2 separate regions of the Homo sapiens genome follow, and region 2 is linked to region 1. Evidence: fine-mapped expression QTL. A gene starts in region 1. The other region holds a variant in brackets. All regions are shown on one strand. Distances are between the middles of the regions.

Evidence for each region.
Region 2: its variant is fine-mapped to the expression of TFRC in blood mononuclear cells (TOPMed, PIP above 0.99).

What each region holds. Positions count from the first base shown.
Region 1 is chr3:196,075,663-196,086,430 of GRCh38, forward strand. It overlaps TFRC (transferrin receptor), which reads right to left and starts at 6,428. Exons shown (of 19, transcript NM_001128148.3): 1 at 6,381-6,428; 2 at 1,402-1,460. The coding sequence starts at 1,437. RefSeq lists an enhancer at 4,680-5,179 and silencers at 6,061-6,360, 6,411-6,750, 9,813-9,985.
Region 2 is chr3:196,044,852-196,056,290 of GRCh38, forward strand. TFRC (transferrin receptor) reads right to left here. Exons shown (of 19, transcript NM_001128148.3): 17 at 10,229-10,450; 18 at 8,567-8,707; 19 at 4,433-7,333. The coding sequence ends at 7,091. It also overlaps the pseudogene ARL8BP1. Among named protein-coding and RNA genes, the nearest start is that of TFRC, 32 kb to the right of the region's middle. RefSeq lists an enhancer at 10,654-11,179. The variant T/C (reference allele first, on the strand shown) is at 4,295.

The DNA of each region.
Region 1 (10,768 bases):
TACTGATTCCCCCACCTCAGCCTCCTGAGTAGCTGGGACTAGGGGCACAAATCAGTTCAGGATACTATGCAGTAACCCAGACCATGATGTTGGTGGGAGCAAGGGAGCAAGAATAAAACAAAGTTATAAATAAGCAGAAATTCTGACTAAGCATAAGATAGAAGACAGAAAAGAGAGAATAGACCAGACACAGTGGCTCATGCCTGTAATCCCAGCACTCTGGGGGGGGCCGAGGCACACAGATCATTTATGGTCAGAAGTTTGAGACAAGCCTGACCAACATGGTGAAATCCCCTCTCACTAAAAATTCAAAAAAAAAAAAACCACTAGCTGGGCATGGTGTCGCACGCCTGTAATCTCAGCCACCCAGGAGGCTGAGGCAGGAGAATCGCTTGAACTCAGGAGGCGGAGGTTACAGTGAGCTAAGATTGCACACTGCATTCCAACCTGGGCAACAGAGCCCAGGCTGAGACTCCATCTCAAAAAATAAAATAAAAATAAATAAATAAATAAATACAAATAAGAGAGAATTGAGGTCTAGACAGAGTGTTAAGAGTTAGGCTCCTTCTCGTCATGGCCTGGATGGCTGTTTTTTTTGTATGTTCTTTCAGCTTTCACTCATACTGTCTACTCAATGTTTCTTAAAATTTCATTTTTTTTTTAATAGAGATGGGCTTGCTATGTTGCCCAGGCAAGTCTCAAACTCCTCAAGTGATCCTCCTGCCTCACCTCCCAAACTGCTGGGATTGCGGGAGTGAGCCACCACACTTGGCCTCATTCAGCCTTTGCTTTTTTTTTTTTTTTTGAGACGGAGTCTCACTCTGTTGCCCAGGCTGGAGTGCAATGGCGTGATCTCAGCTCATTGCAACCTCCGCCTCCCGGGTTCAAGCAATTCTCCTGCCTCAGCCTCCCAAGTAGCTGGGACTACAGGCATGCGCCATGACACTCAGCTAATTTTTTTTTTTTTTGTATTTTTAGTAGAGACCGAGTTTCACCATGTTGGTCAGGCTGGTCTTGAACTCCTGACCACAGGTGATCCACCCACCTCAGCCTCCCAAAGTGCTGGGATTACAGGCGTGAGCCACAGCGCCCCGCAAGCCTTTGCTTTTTACTTCTCCTACTAAAACATTTTGATCAGGGCTTTAATTCGTCTTATCTACTAAGCTGTCCCCGTCTACCACACCCAGAACCACTCTGAGAATTCTTCCAAGACTTTCCATAATTAACCCTACTGAAGGCTGAACTCTTTGTGAGATCAGTTATGCCTCAAGACTACCAATTCAAATGTAAATGAATACCTGATAATAGATTGGGGTTATTATTTCATGCTTACTCAGTTAAAGTCATGCTTGTATATTTCACATTCTTGCAGACACAGAAATACAACTGAAAATATCTTACCAAGTTAGAGAATGCTGATCTAGCTTGATCCATCATTCTGAACTGCCACACAGAAGAACCTAGGTATCAGAATAGAGAATTATTGAGAAAGATACTACTGTATCAGATTAGTGAGCTTTCTATTACCAGGCTAAATGATACATTAAATTTTTAAAATACATTATCACTTTTCTAGAAAAGGTATTTAACCATAGTTTACATGACAACTAAATTAAGTGGGATCCTTTTTAAAGTTTGTTATATACATAATTCTTTTTTTTTCTTTTTGTAGAGACAAGGTCACCCTATGTTGCCCAGGCTGGTCTTGAACTCCTGGCCTCAAACAATCCTCCCACCTTGGCCTCCCAAAGTGCTGCAATTATAAGTACGAACCACTATGTTCTGAGTAGACAAAAGTGACACATACTGCTGGGCGGGGTGGCTCACACCTGTAATCCTAGCACTTTGGGAGGCTGAGATGGGTGGATCACCTGAGGTCAGGAGTTCAAGACCAGCCTGGCCAACATGGAGAAACCCTGTCTCTACTAAAAATACAAAAATTAGCCGGACGTGGTGGTGGGCGCCTGTAATCCCAGCCACTCGGGAGCCTGAGGCAGGAGAATGGCGTGAACCCAGGAGGTGGAGCTTGCAGTGAGCCAAGATCGCGCCACTGCACTCCAGCCTGGAAAACAAGAGCAAAACTCTGTCTCAAAAAAAAAAGAAAGTGACACATACAAAAAGACAAAATTAAGACTAAGGCAGACAAGACCAGTTATGCTACAAATACCACAAACCATCTCCAATGGGAAGGGGAAGAAATACTGATCCTGACTGAATGAATAGTTCCTACAAGTGATTCGATCTTTGACACAAGAAGAAACATGAAACACAGATTACGCTGTTTTACAGATGAAGAGGCCAGTTATTAGAGAAACTAAGTGGCCTGTTCAAGGCTGAAAATTGATAATCTAAGCGAAGTTAAATGGGTTACTGGGTTATAGAAATTGTGTTATCATCTCTGGAAATTTAAGACATTAACCTTAACTTTTGTCAAAGCAAAATACATCTCTGTAATCAAAGTCCTAAGTTAAGTTAAAGGCCTTAACTGAAATCTGAATTTTCCAGTTAATTTGGTTTGAGGGCATCTAGATACTTGAAAATGACATTATCCTGAGATTTGCAAAATGGACATTTATTGGATACCATTTTAAAGCTTTTCCTATATACGAGTACACTTAGGGCATATTAAACACACACGGCACAAAGCAAGCTGTGAGGTATACGCAAATTGTAAAGCAAAGGGTATTATAACTGGCATTAAGAAAAAGCTTTCTGGCCAGGCACGGTGGCTCATGCCTGTAATCCCAACACTTTGGGAGGCCGAGGCAGGTGGATCACGAGGTCAGGAGTTTGAGACCAGCCTGGCCAAGGTGGTGAAACCCCATCTCTACTAAAAATACAAAAATTAGATGGGCGTGGTGGTGGGCACCTGTAATCCCAGCTACTGGGGAGGCTGAGGCAGGAGAATCGCTTGAACCCGGGAGGTGGAGGTTGCAGTGAGCCGAGATGGCACCACTGCACTCCAGCCTGGGTGACGGAGTGAAACTCCATCTCAAAAAAATAATAAAAAAGAAAAAGAAAAAGCTCTAAAACCTATTACAAAAAATTCTTTTTAAATTCAAGCTTTAAAAACCAGTGTCCATATGCAATAGACCATATTCTTAGAAGCATAATCTTTTTTTTTTTCTTGAGACAGAGTTTCGGTCTTGTTGCCTAGGCTGGAGTGCAATGGCAGGATCTCGGCTCACTGCAACCTCCCCCTCCCGGGTTCAAGCCATTTTCCCACCTCAGACTCCGAGTAGCTGGGATTACAGGTGCCCACCACCATGCCCAGCTAATTTTTGTATTTTTAGTAGAGACGGGATTTTACCACGTTGGCCAGGCTGGTCTGGAACTTCTGACCTAGGGTGATCCACCCACCTGGCCTCCCAAAGTGCTAAGATTAGTTACTTGATAAGAACATCCCAAGGAAATCGAAGGCGTGAGCCACTGCGCCCAGCCAGAAGCACAATCTTTTGCCCCTTCTGTTACAAAAAGCTTATCACTACCACTCCACCAGAACAGTAAGGACCCAATCATTAGAGCCAGAACTGGAAGGCCCCACCCTGAACCAATTTTAATCATCCTTTTCTAGGAAAAAACATCTTGCAAGTTTTAACACTCATCTGAACCATCATTCCTCAAGTTTTCTTGTTTTAAATTAATTTTAAGAACACAAAGCGATGGCCGGGCATGGTGGCTCACGCCTGTAATCCCAGCAACACTTTGGGAGGCCGAGGCGAGCAGATCACCTGAGGTTGAGAGTTTGAGACTAGCCTGACCAAACATGGAGAAATCCCATCTCTACCAAAAAAATACAAAATTAGCCGGGCATGGTGGCGCATGCCTGTAATCCCAGCTACTGGGGAGGCTGAGGCAGGAGAATCACTTGAACCTGGGGGAGGTGGAGGTTGCAGGGAGCCGAGATCACACCATTGCACTACAGCCTGGGCAACAAGCGTGAAACTCTGTCAAAAATAAATAAATAAATAATAATCTAAGCTACTTGTGTTATCTTTGGTGTTCTCAATGGTGACTGAAAACAACAATTCAATTTCTCACATTAATAATGAAGCTCAGGTAGGCAAAACGTAGCCCCACGTTTTGAACCATGAAATGGAACACATTCACTGCCTAACAACTTCACTACCCTCTATTTTCTCCAAAATCAGACAGAATCCAGCCCCTGTTTTTACCCACCAACATTCTTCTCTGTTCCTTGAGGTCCTCCTCATTTCTTCCAGGCTCAGCTCAAGGCTTCATCTCTATGAAGCCTTCTCTGACTGACTTCCCTATCCTGTAATAACTGGTATTGAACTACCTGATAATGAGTAAAAATATTGTCTTTAACAGTACTGGGGCATGCCTGATGCATGAGATTCCAAATGATATGAAAAATATAATGAAAACATTGGACCAGGAATCTTTTCCCGTCCCCATCACTCTTCTGGTTTAGTAGGGAGTTTTTTTGTTGTTGTTTTTGAGATGGCATCTCGCTGTCGCGCAGGCTGGAGTGCAGTAGCACGATCTCAGCTCACTACAACCTCTGCCTCCCAGGTTAAAGCGACTCTCGAGCCTCAGCCTCCTGAGTGGCTGGGATTACAGGTGTGCACCACCATGCCCAGCTAATTTTTGTATTTTTCGTAGAGACGGGGTTTCACCATGTTGGCCAGGCTAGTCTCGAACTCCTCACCACAAGTGATCCACCTGCCTCGGCCTCCCAAAGTGCTGGAATTACAGACGTGAGCCACCATGCCCGGCTAATTTTTGTGTTTTTAGTAGAGACAGGATTTCACCATGTTAGTCAGACTGGACTCGAACTCCTGACCTTAGGTGATCCGCCTGCCTTGGCCTCCCAAAGTGCTGGGATTACAGGCGGGAGCCAATGCGCCCAGCCGAGGGTCATTTTTAACTAGCATTGTGATCGATTCAGGTTTAGCTGGGAATCTTGCTCCATGACATTTAAATACATTATCAGAGGCAAGTAACTGCCTCGCCTTAGGGCGGAGTTAGCCAAACTGCTGTCTATCTAACAATCTTCAACACAGGCTAGGTTTACAGCCACCATTACTTGATAAGAACATCCAAAGGAAATTGAAGGATGCTATGCTATATATAACCTTGCAAAATCGATGACAAAAATTATCTTAACTCTGAGTTTTCTTGAGAAGCATATTGTAACCCAAAATTCAGGGCCGGGGGGCGGGGGGAACCAGCAGGGTCCACAAGTACTCTAGACAGCCTAACCTTAATTTTCACAGTAAGCTTAGCATATAAGCATGGGGTAGCCAAATACAATTTCCTACTTTAATCCTCTTATCAACGGGGAAGAAAATGGAAAAAGCTGCAGAATCCAGTCCCCCGGGTAAGTGAGGTCTCTACAAGCAGTAAGCAGAGGGAAAGCGTTATCCGAAAAGAGCCGAATCAGAATGTATTTTCTTACCCACCCTCCCAACCTTAAAAGAACTGTCCAGCAGAATGTGACACAATCGGCCTCTCCGGCGCCCATCAATCCAGCACAGCCCTCTGACCACACCGCTAATCTCCAAGTATCTTTCACAAATAAGTCACTCCTATGGCTCCCGTCTTGTAGTGAGAACTGCTAGCAATATTCTTAATGTGAACACCTGCGGCGTTCAGTCGGATTCTGCCTTGAGAAAACAGAATCCACACACAAGGCGAACAGGCAGAGCATGGCAAGATCAGGTTGTACCAGAGCCGAAGGGTAAGTTTACAGAAACCCGTATCTAATTAATGCCTGTAACACGCTAGTAACCGAATCGGGGACAGCTTTGTCCCTTTCCGCAGTGAGAACGGGGCCCGCCCGGAGCCCGGGGAACCGAAGGTTTAGGAGCCCAAGGTCACCCACGAATCCCAGCCGTTCCCTGGGGCGACTTCCTGGAGCAGCCACGTGTTCCCCCGGCGCCGCACGCCGCGCAGCTGCACCTTGGCTGCGCCCGCGCTCCCGGACCCGCAGCCCGGAGCCGGCGCACTAGGGCCTGCGGCCTTCAAGGGCGAGGACCCGAAGTCCCCGGGGCTGAGAGCGACAGTGGGGGTACACCTGGTCTCGTCATTCGTCGCTCTGTGACCGAGGAGGCGGGCAAGAAGGCAGAGAGAAGGGAAGGGACGAGAGGCGAAGGGACGAGAGGCGCAGGGACGCCTCTGCGCACAGCCGCCGACCCCGTGTACCTGCAGCCGCTCGAGGCGCCGCCACAGCCCCTTCCCCACAGGCTCGCGGCCCCGCTCCATCCCGGCCGCCCCGCCTGGGGCCGCGACCGCTTTCCCGCTCCCCGTGCGGCTCCCTATGGCTGCTGGACAGCACCGGAGCGGCCGCTCCAGCCAGCCCCGCAGGATGAAGGGAGGACACGAGGGTCGGTGTAGTTCTAGAAGCCCGCACTCACACTAGCGCGTCCTCCGTCCCGAGCCGCCACCCGATATCCCGACGCTCTGAGGGGATGGCGGCCCCTAACCGGCGGTTTATAGCCTGGCCCCGCCCCCGGCCCCCAGGGGGGCTGTGCGTCACTTCCTGAGGCACGTACGCTCGCGAGGTGCTCTGACAGATCGCCCGGGGGGCGGGGATGCGCGCGCAGCGGGCGGGGCCCTATGCGGAGGGCGCTGCGGGCGAGGCGAAGGCCAAGGGAAAAGGCGCCAAGGCAGCAGGTGCCCCGAGGAGCCGCGCGATGGGCGCACTGGCCTCTGCCTCGGCGCCTTCCTCCACCCTGGTAGCCTGGCAGCCTCCGCCTGACCTTGACCAACCTCCAGTCCCTGCAGTGCTAGGTCCAATCTGTTGGCGTTGACGCTTAAATGTTGGATATTGCACTGCGGCAGTGCCTTGAAATGTACGTGCAGGATGGAATGTTAGGTAACTATTAAAGCCACTCTTGTGAAGATGTATTTTGCAGCCTCAGAAATACAAAAAGGAAAAGAAAAGCAAAATGCAAATTTTTATTCAGAATGTATACAAGCTGCACTTTAACCAAGACTAGCGGAGTGCTTTGCGTAATGTTTAATGCATGAGGGAATAAAAGGGAAAATAGAAACAAGTGACTTAATAGGGTGATAGGATTGTAGATTAACTTTCGTTTTCATTGCCATCGCTGTTATTGGATTGTGCAATGAATAACAAATAAATAAAATTCAATTCTTGTCACTGTTTAAACTCTTTCCAAACAATCACACCCTCTCCCTCCCTCTGGTCAGTAACCAGCAGGCCAGGGAGGTAGTAGCTACAATGCAAGAAAGCAACCCATACCTTAAAAAGCATTGCACATAAACTGACCTTCAGGCCCGTAGGGACACAGAACAGCCCTTTAAGAAGCAAATCCGTTTCTGGGCCTTGGGCTTTTACTCTTCCCTTTATTTCTTCTGCTCTAAGATAGAGAAAGTACTTGGGATTCTCACCGCCTTTCTCTTTACTCCCATTCTCTAAAATCTCTCTCCCCAAAGAGAAGTGTTTAAAAGTCATATGAGTTGCCAGGCGCGGTGGCTCACGCCTGCAATCCTAACACTTTGGGAGGCCGAGGTGAGCGGATCACGAGGTCTGGAGTTCGAGACCAGCCTGACCAATATGGTGAAACCCCATCTCTACTAAAAAAATTTCAAAAAAAATTAGCCAGGCATAGTGGCACGCGCCTGTAATCCCAGCTACTCAGGAGGCTGAGGCAGAAGAATCGCTTGAACCCAAGAGGCGGAGGTTGCAGTGAGCCAAGATCGCGCCATTGCACTCCAACCTGGGCGACAGAGCAAGATTCCATCTCAAAAAAAAAAAAAAGTCATATGAGCAGGAGCATTGCTGCACCTTTAATGATCTAATCAGGAAAAGGTTAAGGATGCACATCCACAGAGGGCCTACCTTAACATTCAGACACCAGGCCTGCTCCCCTGTGGTGTTCCTTCTTTATTTCTTTAATTATTAATTTTATTTATTTTTATTATTTTTACTTTTAAGACAGTGTCTTGCTCTGTCACCCTGGCTGGAGTACAGTGGCATGATCTCGGGCTCACTGCAACCTCTGCCTCCGGATTCAAGCGATTCTCCTGCCTCAGCCTCCCAAGTAGCTGGGACTACAGGTGTGTGCCACCATGCCAGGCTAATTTTTGTATTTTGAGGAGTGACGGGATTTTATCATGTTGGCCAGGCTTGTCTCGAATTCCTGACCTCAGGTGATCTGCCCACCTTGGCCTCCTAAAATGTTGGGATAACAGGCATGAGCCACCATGCCCAGCCTATTTATTTTTTATTTTTAATTTGACGCAGGGTTTGCTATGTAGCCCAGACTAGTCTTGAACTCCTGGGCTCAAACAATCCTCCTGCCTCCGGTCTCCCAAAGTGCTGGGATTATAGGCATGAGCTAACATGCCTGGCTTTCTGCCTTTCCTTGACTGAAGTATCTTTTAAAAAGAAACAAACAATGCTGGTATTTGCAGGTGAAAATCTTATAGCCTCATGGAGGACATAGGTTTAGGTGGCCAGATGCGATGGCTAATCCCTGTAATCCCAACACTTTGGGAGACTGAGGCAGGTGGATCTTCTGAGGTCAGGAGTTCAAGACCAGCCTGGCCAGCATGATAAAACCCCATCACAACTAAAAATACAAAATTTAGTCTGGCGTGGTGGCGCACACCTGTAGTCCCAGCTACTCCAGAGGCTGAGGCAGGAGAATCGTTTGAACCCGGGAGGGGGGTGGCTGCAGTGAGCTGAGATCACACCACTGCCCTTCAGCCTGGGCAGCAGAGCAAGACTCTGTCTCAAAAAAAAAAAAAAAAAAGAAAGAAAGAAAGAAAAGAAAAGAAAGAAAAATATGTTTAGGAGACATTTAGAGGCCAGGACCATTTGGACATGAAAATTCAAATCTCAAAAATTTATATTCACTAAAATAAAACCATAAACGTGACACTAAAGAGGCTATCAATTATATTTTTATTTTTATGCTGTTATTAGTATTAATAGACACTGCAATTAAAGTCCACTTATTAACACTTTTACTATTTATTTATTTATTTTTAAACAGTCTTACTCTGTCACCCAGGCTGGAGTGCAGTGGCGCCATCTCGGCTCAATGCAACCTCCACCTGGGTTCAAGCGATTCTCCTGCCTCAGCCTCCCGAGTAGCTGGGATTACAGGCACGTGCCACCACGCATGGCTAATTTTTTGTATTTTTAATAGAGACGGGGTTTCTCCATGTTGGCCAGGCTGGTCGTGAACTCCTGCCCTCATGATCTGCCTGCCTTGGCCTCCCAAAGTGCTGGGATTACAGGCGTGAGCCACCGAGCCTGGCCAAATTATTCGAAATTATTATTGGAAATTATTTAATTTCCAACCCTCCACAAACTATTCCATGAGGCTTACCTCATCCTGGAACTAAAACTCTTGCAGTTCTTCTGCATCGTACACAGAAATACGAGAAGTTTCATAAAGGGAAGGAGGTTGGCAAGGAAAAAGATACCATGAGCTGTGGGGAAAAGAAAAGAGCACAAAGCCTGGAGGGCCAAGAAGCTGGAGTTCTCAACTTTCCTGAGCCTGGGTTGTACCAGCTCTAAAATGGGAATAAAGGCTGGGCACGGTGGCTCACACGTCTAATCTCAGCACTTTGGGAGGCTGAGGCGGGCGTATCATTTGAGGTCAAGAGTTCGAGACCAGCCTAACCAATGTGGTGAAACCCCATCTCTACTGAAAATACGAAAATTAGCCGGGTGTGGTGGCAGGCACCTGTAATCCCAGCTACTCAGTAGGCTGAGGCAGGAGAATCGCTTGAACCCGGGAGGCAGAGGGTGCAGTGAGCTGAGATTGTGCCACTGCACTCCAGGCTGAGAGACACAGCAAGACTCCTTCTCAAAAAATAAAATGGGAATAAAAATACCTCATTCCAAAAATACCTCTTTTAGGGTCTAGAAGACCCTAAAAGCAATGACTGGCACATCATACACTGTTGGTCAGCATGGTTGAATCAGAGTCCTCGTGGGGCGGAGTGGGGTCAGGTAGGAACGTGACGTGGAAGATGTCTGCAGACTGGGATGGATGTGGGCTCATGAAGAGGAAGGATGAAGGCATTTCAGCAGAGGAGAACCGGCCACCTGAAGGCTCTGTAGTGAGAAGGAGCCTGTGGTGTGTGTTAAAATTCCTAAGGAGATGTCTGACAGCTAATTCAGGGGAATTACTGCTGGAAACAACAGTGCAGGATGATTAACGGCAAAATTCTGCCTCCCTCTCTTTTTTCTTCACCAAGAGATGAAAGCAGAAGTCTTGCTTTTTGGTGAGAGAGAACTGGCAGGAAAAGCAAACCAGATAAGCCACTTACCTAGTGAAAGAGCCCCAGCTGGCAGGGCATGGAGGCTCACGCCTGTAATCCCAGCACTTTGGGAGGCAGAGGCAGGAGGATCACTTGAGGTCAGGAGTTCGAGACCAGCCTGGCCAACATGACAAGACACTGTCTCTACTAAAAATACAAAAATTAGCCAGGCGTGGTTTTGTGTGCCCATAATCTCAGCTACTTAGGAGGCTGAGGCAGGAGAATCGTTTGAACCTGGGAGGCGGAGGTTGCAGTAAGCTGAGGCTGGGCCACTGCACTCCAGTCTGGGTGACAAAGTGAGTCCGCCTCAAAAATAAAATAAAAAGCCCCCGCCTAGAAATTAGCAACTTGTCCCAGTGGGACTGTCACCCACTGTGCTGCGGAAACATGGGCGTCAGTCATGGCTCTGTACTTCATTTTCCCTGTCTGCCATGTGGAAATAATATCCCTTTATTGCCTTCATTCATTTACCAGTGAAATAAAAAGTAAGAAAACTTAT
Region 2 (11,439 bases), 30 kb before region 1:
GGTTTCAACACGAGGAAAGTAACTAAAGGTCATGTCACAATAAAGATCCAGGACCGGCCGGGCGGTGGCTCACGCTTGTAATCCCAGCACTTTGGGAGGCCGAGGCGGGTGGATCGCCTGAGGTCAGGAGTTCGAGACCAGCCTGGGCAACACGGTGAAAGCCCCATCTCTACTAAAAATACAAAAAATTAGCCGGGCGTGGTAGCGGGTGCCTGTAATCCCAGCTACTCGGAGGCTGAGGGAGAAGAATCGCTTGAACCCGGGAGGCGGAGCCTGCAGTGAGCCGAGATCGCGCCACGTCACTCCAGCCCGTGTGACAGCGACGAGTCAAGGCTATTGTTTACAGGATAGATGCTGCAGATCGTAAGAAGATAGAAGCTTCCCGAAACGAGCTACATAATCTTCAACAAGAGCAAAACTCCAAGTCAAAAACAAAACAAAAAAAAATTGAGACTTGTTTTACCACCCAATGTATTAGTCCATTCTCACATTGCTTTAAAGAACTACCTGAGACTGGGTAATTCATAAAGAAAAGAGGTTTAATTGGCTCATGGTTCCGCCGGCTACACGGGAAGCATGACTGGGGAGGCCTCAGGGACTGCGCCATCATGGCAGAAGGCAGAGGGGAAGCAGGCGCATCCCACACGGCTGGAGAAGGAGGAAGACAGCAAAGGCGCTGCGCACTCTCAAACTACCCGATCTCGTGGGATCTACCATGACAGCAGCAAGGGGGCATTCCGCCCCCGTGATCCAACCACCTCCCACCAGGCCCCCTCCTCCAACACTGGGGATTACGATTTGACCTAAGATTTGGGCAGGGACACAAATCCAAACCGTATCACCCAGTATATGGTCTATCTTGCTGAATATACCACATATACCTAAAAAAAGTATATTTTGCAGTTGTTGAATGTGGTGTTCTACAAATGTCAAGTAGATTGAGGTGGCTGATACAGTGGTTCAAATAATTTGTCCTGATTTTTTTGGTCTAGCTTCTCTATTTACTGCTAAGAAATGGGTGTTAAAATCTATTTTAATGGCAGAATTTTCATTTCTTTTTCATGTATTTTAAGGTGCATACGTATTTATAAGTCTGCTATCTTCCTGAATGGCTCTCTTTACAATTATAAAATATTCCTATCTTTACGGTACTATCTGTTCAAAGTCTATTTAATCTTATATTTATATAACCATTCCAGTCATAGTATGCTAGTGTACATATTGTATTTTTTCCCCTTTCAATTCATCTGTCTTTAAAGTTTCTTATAGGCAGCATATAAATGGGCCTTGATTGTTTTTTAATCATCAGTCTTGATTAGAATGTTAACATGTCAATAATGTAATTATTGATATGGCTGGACTCAGCATGCCACTTCACCAGTTTTTTTGTTTGTTCCTCTTTTGGTTCCTGCCAATTCTTTCCCTTTTGAGGTCACTTCTCCAAGTTTTACTCCCCTCCACTGTTTGCCTACCTTTGTTTACATCTCAGGTTTGGGAGAGTTTTCCCCCCGTCTTACTGAGCTTCTGGCTGTAAGCAGCAGGAGGGATAGGTTGTAGGAGGCTTATGTGGTGACTGTGGAACCAGAGCCCCCATATATGCTTTTAGGAAGATCTGGTATAGAATTCTCATTTATGCACAGACAACTTTGAAAATGTACATAAGAAATCGGTAAATGACCAGGCCCAGTGGCTCACACCTGTAATCCCAGCACTTTGGGAGGCTGAGGCAGGTGTATTACTTCAGTCCAGGAGTTTGAGACCAGCCTGGGTAATAAGGCAAAACCCCATCTCTCAAAAAATACAAAAATTAGCTTAGCTGGGCATGGTGTTGCCTGTCTGTAGTCCCAGCTACTCTCAGGAGGCTTAGGTAGGATAGCTGGAATCCAGGAGGCGGAGGTTGCAGCAAGCTGAAATCATGCCACTGCAATCCAGCCTGGGTGACAAGAGCGAGACCATCTCAAAATAAAAAAAGAAAAATTGGTAATTGTGGAGATTTAGAGGGATGACAACTCTGGAGACTAAGAGGAAAATACTTTTTAATACAGACTTTTCTGCACTTTGACCGTATGTGAATATTTTCAAAAAAGGCATTAAAAATTATACAAAGCTGGCCAGGTGCGGTGGCTCACGCCTTTAATCCCAGCACTTTGGGAAGCCAAGGCGGGCGGATCACCTGAGGTCAGGAGTTCGAGACCAGCCTGGCCAACATGGCGAAACCCCATCTCTACTAAAAATACAAAAATTAGCCGAGCATGGTGGCATGCACCTGTAATCTCAGCTACTGGGGAGGCTGAGGCAGGAGAATCGCTTGAACCTGGAAGGCAGAGGTTGCAGTTAGCTGAGATCACGCCATTGCACTCCAGCCTGGGCAACAAGAATGAGACTCCATTTCAGAAAAAAAAAAAAAAGAAAAGAAAAGAAAATTATACAAAGCTGTCCATTTGGGGTGGATTAAGCATGAGGCAGCTTAAAGGGCAAATGCAGCAAACTGCAAAGGCTTTATTTAACTCAGCACCTAAACCTGTTGACAGCCACAAGGAAGACATTGGTATCTGATATTGAATTCTAGGCAAAGCTGTCTTGCAGATAACCAGGTGTTTTACAAATATTTGTTTAGGACAGCTTCCTAACCCATGACCTTTCACATAGGCAGTTTCTCCCGTAGAATACAGCAGTTTAATAATCATCTTGCTTCTCAAGGGTATGAATGTGGCTAATTTGGACACGGGAAAGCTGGGGCATAGGTGAGGCAATTAGGCTTCCAATTCTAGGGGCCACAATTTTCGTGGCCATACTTAAGAATCCTGGCTGGCACTCATAGCAATGAGATTCAATTGTGTGATGGATTTTTTGGTAACCACACGGTAGAAGGCCAAAATAAGAAAACTCTCAACAATTACGCCTTTTGCTATAGAGCTGGTGTCCACTAACCATGTGGCTACTGAGCACCTGAAATGTGGCTAGCCAAAACTGAGATGTGCATTGCTTGAGGTACAAGGGAGTTTGAAGACACGGTATGGAGCACACCTGTAATCCCAGCCTCTCAGGAGGCTGAGGCACAAGAATTGCTTGAACTTGGGAGGTGGAGGTTGCAGTGAGCTGCGATGGCACCACTACACTCCAGCCTAGGCGATGGGGCGAGACTGTCTCGGGAAAAAAAAAAAAAAGGAGGCAGAGCGTGGTGGTGGCTCACACCTGTAATCACACACTTTGGGAGGCTGAGGTGGGCAGATCACTTGAAGTCAGGAGTTCAAGATCAGCCTGGCCAACATGGTGAAACCCCATCTCTACTAAAAATACAAAAATTAGCCAGGCGTGGTGGCCCACACTTGTAATCCCAGTTGCTCAGGAGGCTGAGGCAGGAGAATCACTTGAACCCAGGAGGTGGGGGTTGCGGGGAGCCGAGATAGCGCCACTGCGCCCCAGCCTGGACGACAGCAAAGATTCTGTCTCAAAAATAAATAAAATTACATATGTGGTATATGGTGACAATATATTGTATATTTAGAAATTGCCAATAGAGGCTGGGCATGGTGGCTCACGCCTGTAATCCCAACACTTTGGGAGGCTGAGGCAGGCGGATCACCTGAGATCAGGAGTTCAAGACTAGCCCGGCCAACATGGTGAAACCCCACGTCTACTAGAAATATGAAAATTAGCTAGGCGTGGTGGCAGACACCTGTAATCCCAGCTACTCGGAGGCTGAGGTAGGAGAACTGCCTGAGGCGGAGGCTGCAGTGGGCTGAGATCGCCCACTTAGAAGACAGCAGCAATCATGTACCTTGGTATTTACCTAAAGAGCTGAAGACCTATGTTCACAGAAAAGATATACACACAGGTGCTTATCAGTTTATTCATAACTGCCAAAACTTAGAAGCAAGATTACTTAGTAAGTAGGTGAGCTAGATAAACTATGGTAACTGCAGACAACAGAATATTGTTCTGTGCTAAAAAGAAATGAGGTATCATGTCATGAAGACATGGAGGAAACAAATGCTATTGCTTAGTGAAAGAGGCCAATCTGAAAAGGCTATATTCTGATTCCAACTGTATGACAGTCTGGAAAAGGTAAAATTATGGATATAGTAAGATCTGTGGTTACCAGGGCCTTATAGAAGAGATGGATGAATGGGCAGAGCACAAGATTTACAGCAATAAAAACTATTCTGTAAGCTACTAGAATGATATTACATATTTGTCAAAAACCGTAGAACAAACCCTAACGTAAACAGTAGACTAATGATGCTGACGGTGCTAATGGTGCACCCGTGTAGGCTGCCCATTGTAACAAATA[T/C]GCCGCTCTGGCGCAAGCTGTTGACCGTCATGGAGGATGTGTAAGTGGCAGAAACAGTGGATGTGTGGGAATTCTGTTTAATTTTGCTATGAGCCTAAAACTGCTCTTTTTAAAAAATTTATCTAAAGAAATGACAACTCAGTGTTTAAGTATTTTATTAAATCAGACAAGGAATCTCCACACTGTTGCACATAACAGCTTTTATACAATGATAAGGACATATCATTTGTTTACAAAGAAAGTCTAAAATTTCAAGAACATTCAAAGAGCTAACACAGTAAAGGTCATGCAAGTTCTAGAATAGTGAATCATGACAGAACTCATTCATTTTATCCTTTACCTCCAAAAGGCCCATCTCCTTAACGAGAAGACATCTCAAGACCAGGAGCTTGTCACTAGTCTGATATTTCATTCAGGAATATTGAGCCTGTTAGCACGTACTGGCTTGATAGGAAGTAACTCAACCCTAACTGTAGAAAAGGGTTTTCTGAAGAGACTCACTGCTGCAAAATGCATGCCCTGTATTCATATTGTGTTATACGATGAACATGCCACATGCTTTCATTTAAGTACGTGTGCGTAACACCCGAACCAGGAATCTCAGCTATGACCTTTTCACTTAGCTACGCTAAATGTCAGTCCAAGATAAAAGAGGAGATTAAAGATAAAACTGAAGATTAAAGAGACTGTGAGTAGTGACACATTCAAGTGAGGCTGTAAATCTAGGTAAGTGACACTAAGAACCTGAAGAGACCCTATGAACTTTTCCCTAGGAGGCCGTTTCCAACTGCCCTATGACAAACAGCTGATCATCACGTTTATAATGATGGTTCACTCACGGAGCTTCGAACTTATTCATACCTACATTTAATTGATCACCACGAATGGGTAGGCAGACGTGTCAGACCTTCAGGGGACTCTCCTTCCCCACAGCCCCCAAACCTTCTATACAAAGTCCCTCTGCTTTAAGTCAAAAGGTCAATTCTGGATTAAAACTTGTCCGCACTAAGTTTATAGGAGGTAACATGCAAATAATGTGATAAAGTTAAAATGACTTGTCAATAGCAAACATTATAAATGTATGCTACTATCTCATTAAGTAGAGGACCTGGAGAAACCATAAAGGTAACAAAAACCCAAGCTAAATTTCAAATTTTGTAGTAATTTCATTTTACAGTGGTTGAATTTACCCACCCAATGCTTAATGACCACAAAATGTTTCTGCAACTAAAACTAAAAGATAGGGAATTATAGGAGTTGGGATACATGTTAGATACTAACGATCTTCAAGCTTTGAAGATGTCATTGCATGAAGAAAATTATGGGAAACACTGTTCCCGATAATTACTTACACCCTTAGTGTAACATATGGAGATCACTGTCTCCGATACAGACACTGTGGTAGGTAAAAACTACCTTGTTCTTTATACATTATGGAAGACACTGCTCCCGATAATGTGTTAGGATTGTGACAAAGGTACTGGAAATTTTGCAAAATGGGAATTAGAGTTACACCTTGGATAAACTGAGCTATAAAATTTTGCAGGAGTACTACCACAGCCTTTAAGTGACATTGATTTATAACTTGGTCACAATTCACTGCATTTAGGAAAACCAGCATTCTTATCTGGTCAGTGCTCGCTTCTTAGCAACCCCTAATTAAATTTAATTCATCTCTAAATCTTAGCTTCAACTTTATTCAATTACATTTGGCTGACGGCTGTTTTCTAAAACCCTTAAGTGTTGACCATAAATGCAAAACTTCCAGTATCTGTTGGGTTTTATTAGCAGATGCTGCTTTTATTTAAAAAAAACCGACAGTATAACTGTCATAATTATGGAAGGCACTGCTTCCGATAATTATATTCTATTAAAAAAACACCATTTATAGTGAACTCTGTCACTGATAAATAAACAATAAATATCTCAGTGCCAAAAGGACAGAAAGCTCTCCCCTAAGATTAACACTTTGGCCAAAATTTGGCAGCATATTATTCTTTAAAGTCTGACAAACTGAGTCTGCAACTAAACACCTGAAACTGGTTCTCTTTCAATGTGCTTTGGAAGAAACAAAAATAACAAAGAACTAAATGGAGGCTTATGGGGGAAGGGACAGAGGAAAAGAAAATATACTAAGTCTTTGGCTTCTGGTCCCCTCTTTTCATAAATGACACTGAGGTTAACATATTAAGGCCTTATTCCTGCAATCAACAGTTGAACCTCATTTTATCCAGCAGAAGGACCTCCATTTCAGACCTCATTGGCAAGAAAACAAGCCCATCTCTTCTGAAAGTTAACTGTTTCTTTCAGGAATGAGGAAACCAGCTACATTCCTTATGGAAAGGCTTAGATCTCATTTGGAGAAGGTCTTTCAACCTGGTATCTCCTATTTAGCATCAAATGAAGTTGGAGGATCACTCAAAGTAAGCGACCACTTACAACCTTCAGCAGAGACCAGCCCTTAGGATTCAGAGAGATCATTCACATAACTGGTTTCTGACATTTTCATTAACAACAACAGGAAAGAGGCAGTTCCCATTACAAAGCACTTAAAATTCTAGAGATAGGGGAATATTCCATCATGGACATTTTTTAAGTGGTTATTCACTTTAACTTGAAGTACAGGTTATCTACCCTGTATTAAAAGCTGCTGCCTAAAGACATCTAGTAGTACCAAGATGATGGGATGGAATTTTAACATCAGGTTTTGTAGCCCTACTGAAAATTTAGCACGATCAGCACAAGTCTAGAAACCAGACTACCCTGCTGTTCTCATGGAAGCTATGGGTATCACATTTAAAACTCATTGTCAATGTCCCAAACGTCACCAGAGAGGGCATTTGCAGCTCCCTGAATAGTCCAAGTAGCTAGAGCCAACTGGTTTCTGAACAGCGTTTCATTAAAAGCACCGTTATTTTGTTTACGCAGTTTCAAGTTCTCCAGTAAAGCTGGCAGCGTGTGAGAGCCGGAGCCCCAGAAGACATGTCGGAAAGGAGACTCTTTTGGAGATACGTAGGGAGAGAGGAAGTGATACTCCACCTACGAAAACAACACACAAGGCAATTTACACAGCCCTGTGACTTTTGTAGTAAAACAACAGTTCACTTCAAATGTAAAATGTCCCAAATTTAAGAATGCCGATCAGACTTTTTTTTTTTTTTTTTTTTTTTGACACAGAGTTTCGCTCTTGTTGCCCAGACTGGAGTGCAACAGCGCTATCTCGGCTCACTGGTACCCTCCACCTCCCGAGTTCAAGCAATTCATGCTGGGATTACAGGTGTGAGCCACCGTGCCCGGCTTTTTGTTGTTGTTGAGACAGAGTTTCGCTCTTGTTGCCCAGGCTGGAGTACAATGGCGCGATCTCAGCTCACTGCAACCTCCACCTCCCGGGTTCAAGTAATTCTCCTGCCTCAGCCTCCTGAGCAGCTGGAATTACAGGCATGCACCACCACGCCCAGCTAATTTTTGTATTTTTAGTAGAGATGGGGTTTCTCCATGTTGGTCAGGCTGGTCTTGAACTCCTGACCTCAGGTGATCCGCTTGCCTCGGCCTCCCAAAGTACTGGAATTACAGGCATGAGCCACTGTACCCAGCCAGCTGATCAGACTTTCTATAGCAGAGTAAGGAAAAAAGAATGCTGAGAACCAGGCTAATGCTAATCTTCTAAGGTTAAAATTCTAAAGGAGGCTAGGCACAGCGGCTCACGCTTGTAATACCAGCACTTTGGGAGGCCAAGGCAGGTGGATCACTTGAGGTTGGGAGTTCGAGACCGGCCTGGCTAACATGGTGAAACTCCGTTTCTACTAAAAATACAAAAAATGAGCCGGGCGTGGTGTTGGGCACCTGTAATCACAGCAACTCGGGAGGCTAAGGCAGGAGAATCACTTGAACCTGGGAGGTGGAGGGTGCAGTGAGCCGAGACCGTGCCATTGCACTCCAGCTTGGGCAACAACAGTGAAACTCTGTCTCAAAAAAAAAAAAAATTTTTTTAAAGGAAACTGATTCATTTTACAAAGGAAAACTTTAAATGTGTTCAGATTCTTTTCCCCATTGGAGCATACATGGAAGTTTTACAGCAAGTCTCTTCCAAAAAGACTAGGTTTGACTAAGTTCTGAATTAGACAGCAGAAACAGAAAATGACAGCTAAACCATTAATGCTCCCTTCTTAAAGGAATTCTAGACTCCTAGAGTTTGTCCACTTTGCAGAAGTGTAAGATTTATCGGTTATTTTACACATACTTTAGTTCCTCCTTTCCCAAAAGTTCACTTACTCTCATGACACGATCATTGAGTTTCTTCATGACAAATCTGTCTGTTTTCTCAGCATTCCCGAAATCTGTTGTTAGTCTGGAAGTAGCACGGAAGAAGTCTCCACGAGCAGAATACAGCCACTGTAAACTCAGGCCCATTTCCTGAAACAGACATTATTCGCTATGAGAAGTTTTATTTCTAAGGACATTCTTTTGTATGCCTTTCTAATTTAACGTGCGTTAAGTAAGATTCTGATAAAAGGAACTCGCAGATAAGCTCAAGACTCCGAAAGCACCTTGCACAGGGGTTCCAAGCTCTATGGACTGTGATATACACTCATATTTGAGCCCAGCATGTAAGAAAACCATTCTCATTAAGAAATTGAACATAATTATATAATCCTATGTACTATATTGTTTCCAGTTCAATTCTCCTTTTGGGGGAAAATGTCCCTATAGGGGAAAACATTTTGGTTCAAGGTACTTCAGGATTTAGTTATTTCCACCTGGTAAGTTCCATTTTCAACAGTTACAATTAGTTTCAAGAAAGACATAAGATGCCGGGCGTGGTGGCTCATGCCTGTGATCCCAGCACTTTGGGAGGCCGAGGTGGGTGGATCACCTGAGGTCAGGAGTTCAAGACCAGCCTGGCCAACATGGTAAAACCCCGGCTCTACTAAAAATACAAAAAATTAGCCGGGCGTGGTGGCCGGCACCTGTAGTCCCAGCTACTCGGGAGGCTTAGGCAGGAGAATGGCGTGAACCCGGGAGGCGCATCTTACAGTGAGCCGAGATCTCGCCACTGCACTTCAGCCTGGCCAACATGGTAAAACCCCGGCTTCTACTAAAAACACAAAAACTATCTGGGCATGGTGGCACACGCCTGTAATCCCAGCTACCTGGGGAGCCGAGGCAGGAGAATCGCTTAAAGCCGGGAGGTGGAGGTTGCAGTGAGCCGAGATCATGTCATTGCATTCCAGCCTGGGGGACAAGAGCGAGACTTCATCTCTCAAAAAAAATAAAATAAAAATAAAAATAAAAAAGATATAAAAAGATTCGGTTGTCAGTGATTTACTTCAATTAAGAGATCTGTTAAAAATCAACTCCTAGTACCATAAAACAATCTGGAAGCTACTTTAATATTAGTTTTATTAATTTATTTAGAGATGGGATTTTGCTATGTTGCCTGGGCTGGACTCCAGCAATCCTCCTGCCTCAGCAGAAGTAGCTGGGGCTACGGGTATGCACCACCTCACCCTGCTTATCAGTTTCGTTTAATAGAATATTTGACTTTTAGATGCGCAGATCACTACGAGATGGAATCCTGCTAGCTGTGCTGTCTTTCCATCCGGGTCACGCCCGAGAGGCACACAGCCCAACTCCTTGCTGAGATCTTCATATTCCGTGTCCTACTGACGGGCTGCCTGGGAGACATGAGTGACAGAAAACCTGACACTGCTCTGGATTCTGAAACACCTGCTGAGCTCTGTCCTAGGTCTCTAATCCACAGCCTCCCGACTTCTCTCAAACAAGTTACCAATTCTACATACAATTATACCTCAGTTCACTTTAAAATGTACTATGGCTACAATCACCCTTCCAACAGGAACACACAGGAACACATCACATTTCAAAATACTTGACATTCAGCAAAATAAAAACGTAATTGGAATCAGTGCTCACCTTTATGTCTGCTCTGTATTGGTTCAGATCCCTCACAAATGAAAGCAGTTGGCTGTTGTACCTCTCATAGTCCAGGTTCAATTCAACATCATGGGTTAGTTTAATCACGAACTGACCAGCGACCTCTGCAGCTGCTCGTGCCACTTTGTTCAACTCAGGAATCCTCTCAATCAGTTCCTTATAGGTGTCCATGGTGGTACCCAAATAAGGATAATCTGTGTCCTGCAAGACAACGCGAGGCTATGGTACTCACGTGAGTTCTAAGAGCAAGAGCCTCACATTCTGGCTTCGCCATCGAGGTAACAGTGACGACAGTTCCACCCTTGCTTCTAACATATTCCTACCGCAATTTACCCCAATTCTATCTCATTATCTGCTGCTTTAAGTACATTCTTGCTACTTCTCTCAAGCTAACCTACTCCTAGAGTGACTACTTTCTTCCAGGTTCTACAGAATCCCTGTTCTATCGTATCATATGCCCTGAATAGACTTCTAGCCAAATTCCTTAAGGCTGTATGTTTTTCTCTCTGGGAAGTTTGGGCCTTTATCAATGAAAAAAGAGAAGATACATGAAACATACCTTGAGACGAGGTCTCTCTGTCACCCAGGCTAGAGTGCAGTGATGCAATCACGACTCCCCACAGCCTTGAGACAAGGTCTCTCTGTCACCCAGGCTAGAGTGCAGCAATGCAATCATGACTCCCCGCAGCCTTGAGACAAGGTCTCTGTCACCCAGGCTAGAGTGCAGCGATGCAATCATGACTCCCTGCAGCCTTGAGACGAGGTCTCTCTCTGTCACCCAGGCTGGAGTGCAGTGATGCAATCATGGCTCCCTCTAGCCTTGAGACGAGGTCACTCTGTCACCCAGGCTAGAGTGCAGTGATGCAATCACAGCTCCCCGCAGCCTTGAGACGAGGCCTCTCTCTGTCACCCAGGCTGGAGTGCAGTGATGCAATCATGGCTCCCTGCAGCCTTGAGACGAGGTCACTCTGTCACCCAGGCTGGAGCGTGGTGATGCAATCATGGCTCCCCACAGCCTTAAGCTCCTAGCTCAAGTGACCCCCCTGCCTCAGCCTCCCAAGGAGTTGGGACTACAGCTGGCCACTGGGCCACTTAATTTAAAAAATTTTTTGTAGAGATATAGTCTAGGCACGTTACCCAGGCTGGTCTCACTCCTGGCCTCAAGTGATCTGCCCACCTCAGCCACCCAA